2 linked regions of the Homo sapiens genome follow. The protein of the gene in region 1 interacts with the protein of each later gene in a biochemical or structural test. Each region holds a gene or a part of one and is shown in the gene's direction. Other genes may lie near its edges.

Evidence for each region. The genes of interacting proteins can lie anywhere in the genome.
Region 2: the proteins of PTPN18 (region 1) and MAGI1 interact in a test that uses a peptide from one of them, tested with the Homo sapiens proteins (one large-scale study listed by IntAct).

The regions. Positions count from the first base shown.
Region 1 is NC_000002.12:130,366,056-130,369,555, forward strand, and holds part of PTPN18 (tyrosine-protein phosphatase non-receptor type 18), read left to right. Parts: intron 1-3,077; coding exon 3,078-3,146; intron 3,147-3,500. UniProt on the Homo sapiens protein: Differentially dephosphorylate autophosphorylated tyrosine kinases which are known to be overexpressed in tumor tissues.
Region 2 is NC_000003.12:66,032,419-66,035,918, reverse strand, and holds part of MAGI1 (membrane-associated guanylate kinase, WW and PDZ domain-containing protein 1), read left to right. Parts: intron 1-3,500. UniProt on the Homo sapiens protein: Plays a role in coupling actin fibers to cell junctions in endothelial cells, via its interaction with AMOTL2 and CDH5. May regulate acid-induced ASIC3 currents by modulating its expression at the cell surface.

The DNA.
Region 1 (3,500 bases):
CCCCTGCTGTGCAGAAGAGTTAAACATGGCAAGCATAAATGTTTATGCTTAGAAAGGCCTTCCTGTAAGGTTGACTCTTGGGTGGCCTCTAGAAACCTAGGTTTCTGATAACAGTGGCTCACTATGCCTGAACTGTTAATACAAACAATATGCTTTATGCAGAACACCTGTTCTCCTGCTGGTAGTCTGACATTTTGGTACAGGCTAGGCAGAGTGTGCCTACATTCTGTGCAGACGGTGCCCCAATAAAAATCCTGGGCACTGAGTTTCTAATGAACTTTTTTATGAAACGCTGTTGAGTTTTGTCAAATTTTGTTCTTTGCATCTATTCAGATGATCGTGTGTTTTGTATTCTACTAATATGGTGTATGACATTGACTTTCATATGTTGAACCAATCTTGCATTCCTGGAATTAATCCCACTTAGTCATGGTGTTTAATACTTTGCTAGTACTTCATTGAGAATTTTTGTGTCTATGTTTGTGAGATATTGGTTAGTAGTTTTCTTTTCTTGTGATGTCTTTGGTTTTGGTGCCAGGGTAATACTAGCCTCATACAATATGTTGGGAAATGGTTCCTCTCAGTTTTTTGCAAGAGTTTGTGAAAGGCTGGTATTAATTCCTCTTTGTTTGATAAAATTCACTAGATTATCTTTTAAAGATGTTTAAAATGAAATATCTTTTACATTTAGCCACTTACTTTTCTCCCTGTTATTTTGTGTAGATCTGTATTTCCATTTGTATCACGTTCCTTTTGTATGCAGAGCTTACTTATTCTATTTATTTAAGAGATAGGGTCTCACTCTGTCATACAGGCTGGAGTGCAGTGTGCAGTCACCACTCACTGCAGCCTCAAACTCCTGGGCTTAAGCAATCCTCCCACCTCAGCCTGCCAAGTAGTTGGGAGTACAGGTGTGCCACTGCACTCAGCTAACTAAAAAAGATTTTTTTTAGATACAGGCTAGCTATGTTGCCAACACACCTAGCTAATTTTAATTTTTTTTTTTTTTTTTTTTTTTTTTTTAAGATACAGGCTATGTTGCTCAGGCTGGTGTTGAAGTGGCCTCAAGCAATCCTCCTGCCTTAGCCTCTCAAATAGCTGGAGCAGCCACTGTCTGTAAGCATCTGAAGAGCTTACTCTAATATTTCTCATAATGCAGATTTGTTTGTGATGAATTCCCTCAGCTTTCATTTGTCTGAAAAGGTTTTCAGCATTTTTAGGATATCATAGCATTGACTTGCCGTTTCTGACAAAATGTTGCTATAATTCTTAACTTTGTTCCTCAGTATGTGATGTGTCCTTTTGTGCATAATGCTTTTAAGATTTTCTCTTCTGGGGCCTGGTGTGGTGGCTCATGCCTGTAATCCCAGCACTTTGGGAGGCCAAGGTAGGTGTATCACTTGAGGTCAGGAGTTCGAGACCAGCCCGGCCAACCTGGTGAAACCCTGTCTCTACTAAAAATACAAAAAAAGGTTGGACATGGTGGTGTGTGTCTGTAATCCCAGCTACTCAGGAGCCTGAGGCAGGAGAATCGCTTGAACCTGGGAGTTGCAGGTTGCAGTGAGCCGAGATTGAGCCACTGCACGCCAAGCCTGGGTGACAGAGCAAGGGTCTCAAAAAAAAATTTTTTTTTCTCTTCTTCATTCTTTTTCAGTAATTTGATCATGATCTGCCTTGGCGTGACTTTCTTTAGGTTTAGGTTTATTCTCCCTCTGGTTCATTGACTTTCTTGGATTTGTGGGTTCATAGTTTCATCGAATTTGGGAAAATTTTCACCTATTATTTCTTTACATAAAGTTTCTGTTATCCCCCTTTCTCCTTTCCTTCTGGACTCCACGTGCACATACACTAGACTGGTATATTTCTACAGAGAACTGATTCTTTTTCATTTTTTTCATTTCATTTTGAATTATTTATATTGCTATGTTTTCATGTCTATTGATCCTTTCTTCTAGTGTCTACCCTGCTATTAGTGGATTTTTCATTTCATATATTTTATTTTTCCTCTTTATAAATTCCATTCAGGTTATTTTTTGTATCTTTCATTCCACTCTGCATCATGTTCATGTTTTCCTTTTCATCTTTGAGTGTATTTGTAATAGCCATTTTAAGATTTTTGCTTCTTTCCTGAACTGTTATTTCTGGGCCCTTTCCTATTGACTAATTTTTCTCCTGGTTATGGGTCACACTTTCCTGCTTCTTTGTATGTCCAGCAAAATTTTATTGGATGCTTGATATTTTGAATTTTGCACAGGTAAGTGTTGGATTGTTTTCTTTAGAGTGTTTTGCCTTTTCAGGAACTTTTGGATGGTTGATCAAGTAGCCTTTGTTCTAGAATTAATTTAGCCGTACTTCTAATGTGTGGTCATTCTAGGTTCCCTACTAAATGCCCCTTATAGTTGATAATGCCTCTACACTCTAGCTAGAGGGAATGTGAATTCTTTCTCATCATGAGCTCAAGGAAATGTTCATCCTACAGATCCCTACTATTCTTTCATGGTAAGTTATTCTTGCCTGGCCTCATGGGGTTTCATGTTGTATATATTCAGATTATTCAACCAAAGAATCAAGGAGGGGACTTCTATGCAAGTTATTGTTTTGTTTTTATTTGCATACCTCTGTTCCTTCCAGGACTCTGCCCTGCAAATTCTAGCTGCTTTTGCCTCCTTGAGCCATGGTCTCTGGCTCAACTCAGTGGGATCATTAGACTCATGTCTTACAGCCTGGTGACACTTCCATGCAATAAGCCGGAGTGGTCTGTTCAGTGACCACAGTACTGCAACACCTGCCAACCAGTGTCTGAAAATAGTGGCTCATGTATTTTGTCCAGTTTCTAGTTGCTTACAGTGGGAGGGTATCCTGGACTGTATTTCCCCTGCATGGTCAGCAGCGCACCTCCATTGAGTCTGCATGTGTTTAATCTGATGGCTCTGTTGGCTGGCGTCTGTTATAGGTTATAAGTATAGCTGCCTGTGCTTCCACCACGAGCACCTGGGGTGTCTTGTGGCATGATTGAGCTAGCTCTGAAGCTGACTCCCTCTTCTCACTCCCTGCCTTTTCTCCCTTACCTTTTGCAGAAAAGGTGTGAGCGGTACTGGGCCCAGGAGCAGGAGCCACTGCAGACTGGGCTTTTCTGCATCACTCTGGTGAGCTGTGGGAGTTTTCAAGGAAGATTCCCAGGGTGGAAAGGCTTTGGGTTGGGCCTAAAAGGTTGAATGATTTAACCCACAGTCCACTCATACTGCAGGAAACCCTCTGGTGTTAGCCTGCAAATAGTTAGAACTTACTATAGGGATAGCCTTTGCATTTTTATTTTGGCTACAATCAGTTAATCTCTGTCATGTAAATGTGCCTGGTTAGGTTGTTGAAATTCTTACTTCTCTTACCATTTCAAAAGAGCTTGGGGAACTCTCTCAAGTCATACATACAGTTAGTACTTAATAAATGCAATAAAAGTTTCATTTTAGAACAAAAGACATCTCTTTTCATTGCAAAAGGGC
Region 2 (3,500 bases), on another chromosome or scaffold:
ACTAGTTGCCAAATTTCTGGGAGGCGATGTCCCAGGGCTCTCTCATCATGGAGTTTAGGAAGGCTTGGTGAGATAATCAAGTGGGTTTGGAAACAGACACCTCTGAGTTGAAAGGAAACTGTAGTGTCTCCAGGTGTTAGCTCTCTTCACCCCTTGTGCACAGATTGTTCACAGCAGGGGCGAGTGTGTGGGTATGTTTCTGTGTGTGTGTGTATATGTATGTATGGATGGATGTACGTGAATCTACTTGTAATGGGATAGAAATATGATACTGATTGGGAAACCTGAATGGCCTGGAATTCATTGCAGTCTGAAAGTGACTATTTCATGTAATAATTACACAGGCACAGTTGGATCTTCTGACGTCTTCATTACCAGTAATGATGGCCCTAGAAACCATTTCACCAGTTTTCTGCTCCCTCTTCCATGTTGAGAATATGATTTAGATTGTATGACAGAATTGCTCTTAATGTGTCTTCATTACTGTGCCTTTTAAAGTCATATCAAGCAGGCTCATACTTGGTATATGGTAAAGAAAAATACTACTTTTGTGTTGTTTGCATCCCAAGTTAGCCACTTCCAGGGACACAGATCACTCTGGATACTGTCTACATGGTGGGAGAAAATTCTGTTTTTCTACTTCATGGCAGTTCTCTGGAAAGATACATGGACCAAAACTGTCTGTGACAGGACTGGATTGTGCAGGAATCAAACTCAATGGATCTGCCAGGTTGGACTTGGTTCATTTTAAATGGAGAAGACAGTCCTTTGTCAGGTTGGAGTTGGTTCATTTTAAGTGGGGAAGACAGTACTTTGTCATAAAATGCCTTTACAAAGTTATATATAATTATGTGTATTCAGGTATCATTTACCTATAGTAAAATGCATATCTTAGATATATAATTTGATGAGTTTTAAGCGATGTATGCACTCATGTTAATCACTCAAATGAAGATAGAGAACATTTTCATCACCCCAGAAATTTTTCTCATGTTCCTGTCCAGTTAATTCCCCCCTCCCCCTGCACCATAGATCTACCATAGAATAATTTTGTCTTCAACTTCATAAAAATGAACTAATGCAGTATGTACTCTTTTGTGTTTGGCTTTTGTTACTCAACAAAATATTTTGGAGATTTCGTTTTGTTGCATGTGTACTTCATTTGGTTCTTTTTTTATTGCTAAGTAATATTCCATTGTATACACATACCAGTTTGTCCTTTTGCTTGTTTATGGACATTTGGAGTATTTACCATTTTTTACTATTACGAATAAAGCTGTTATTAATGTTTCAGTTGCTCTACATCTTTGGCCATCTTTGATTTTGTTTGTCTTTTGAATTTTAGCCGTCCTAGTATATGCTTCGGAAAAATGTAATTAAGGAAACTTTGATACAGGATATAAGATGTCGCTAGTATGTATTAAGATCTTGCCTTAGAATATAATAGGTGCTTGGCTAAGCTGATGCTTCGTGGGCATTCTCTTTTTCAGTCCTTACAATTGGACTCAGATGTTAGAAGCTGAGGTTCAGAGAATTTGGGTAACTTTTCCAAGGGTCATACCACAGTGGCAGTAGAGCTGCAACCCAGCTCTGTCTGATTCCAAAGCCTGTGCTCCCAATTCCTGGGACAGTAGGTCTCCAAGTGAGGTCCTCAGACCAGTGGCATTAGTATAGTAACCTGGGAACTGGTTAGAAATCCAGATTCCTGGGCCCCACCTTAGTTCTACCAATTCAGAAGCTTTGCGGGGGATGGGGTTGGGGTTGGGGGGTGGGGTAACAACCATGGGGTGTTTTAATAAACCCTCAAGGGATTCTGATGGGCTTATTAAGGGATTCAAGGGTTCAGTTTTAAGAACTACTGTACTAGGGTATAGACCAAAATTGAGAAGATGACATCAGATGAGACAGGTGACCTGGGTTCTAGAATAAGCTCTGCCAGTCACATTCTTGGAGCCTACATTTCTCTATGCCAAAAATAAGTGGGTGAGCCTCTTCAGGTTATTTGTGCTCGTGAAATCCTTTGTTTCCATGAATCACCCAGACTCCAAAGGTTTAAAATGGTATGATTGTAGTTTCCCAAAGTGGTGTATTACAGGTCATGCTTACATATTTTTGCAGGTGAATTTTGTGGTTTTTCAAATTACCCAGGAACTGTAACTATCCCTCTACTTTTTGTGTATGTGTGGCAGTGTGGAGATAATAAAAGAGATACAATTTAAAAGCCAAACCAAACCACCACCAGACCCTTCCCCTCACTGTAATGAGGGAAATTGTGATCACATATGGTTGAATATAGTTCTTTGTGTGGTTTTTTGTTTTGGTATTGTTTTGATTCATTGGAATGTATGACAATAACTCTCATTTTAAAACACAGGGCCTTGTCTTTCAGAGTTGTTTGGTTTCTCATGAATCTCTGGTCTTGCTTCTTTCTCCTCAGTGACCTCCTTCTGGTGTGCTGTAAAATGCTTAACAACCAGTGCTAGTAGTGGGTAGACCCTGATTTATAGCATAGCTGGAGTTGGGAAGAGACGCGTATACTTGCTGTTCCCAAGCCAATGTGAGCTGGCCCCCACACACCACTGACTGCATATAAGATAGTGCCCTTGTGGTGGCTCACCTGTAATCCCAGCACCTTGGGAGGCCAAGGTGGGTGGATCACTTGAGCTCAGGAGTTTAAGACCAGCCTGGGCAACATGGTGAAGTCTCTACCAAAAAATACATAAACTAGCTGGGCGTGGTGGCGAACTTCTGTAGTCCCAGCTACTCGGGAGGCAGAGTGGGAGAATCGCTTGAGACCAGGAGGCAGAGGTTGCAGTGAGCCAAGATTGTACCACTGCACTCCAGCCTGGGTGACAGAGTGAGACCCCCATCTCACACACACACACAAAAGATAGCTCCCTGAGTAAAGTGCCATTCCCTCACCCTGTTTGTTCCTTCATAGCCTTGACACAATCTCGTATTATCTTCTGTTGTTGTTGTTGTTGTTTTTTTTTTTTTTTTTTTTGAGATGGAGTTTCGCTCTGTTGCCCAGGCTGGAGTGCAGTGGTGCGATCTCGGCTCACTGCAACCTTTGCCTCCCGGGTTCAAGCAATTCTGATGCTTAGCCTCCCGAGTAGCTGGCATTATAGGCATGTACCACCATGCCTGGCTAATTTTTTGTATTTTAGTACAGGTGGGGTTTCGCCATGTTGCCCAGGCTGGTCTCTTGAGCTCAGGCAATCTGCCTGCCGCCTTGGCCTCCCGAAGTGCTAGGATTGTAGGCGTGAGCCACCGCAACGGGCCCTGTTTCTTCTTTATTGTCTGTTTCCCCTCCCATGAGAATAGAAGTTCCATGAAAACAAGAAGCTTGTCTCTCTTGTTCACTGCTGTATTTCTCAGTGTCTAAAAAAGACCCAGCAGGGCCAGGCGTGGTGGCTCATGCCTGTAATCCCAGCACTTTGGGAGGCCGAGGTGGGTGGATCACAAGGTCAGGAGTTCAAGACCAGCCTGGCCAAGATGGT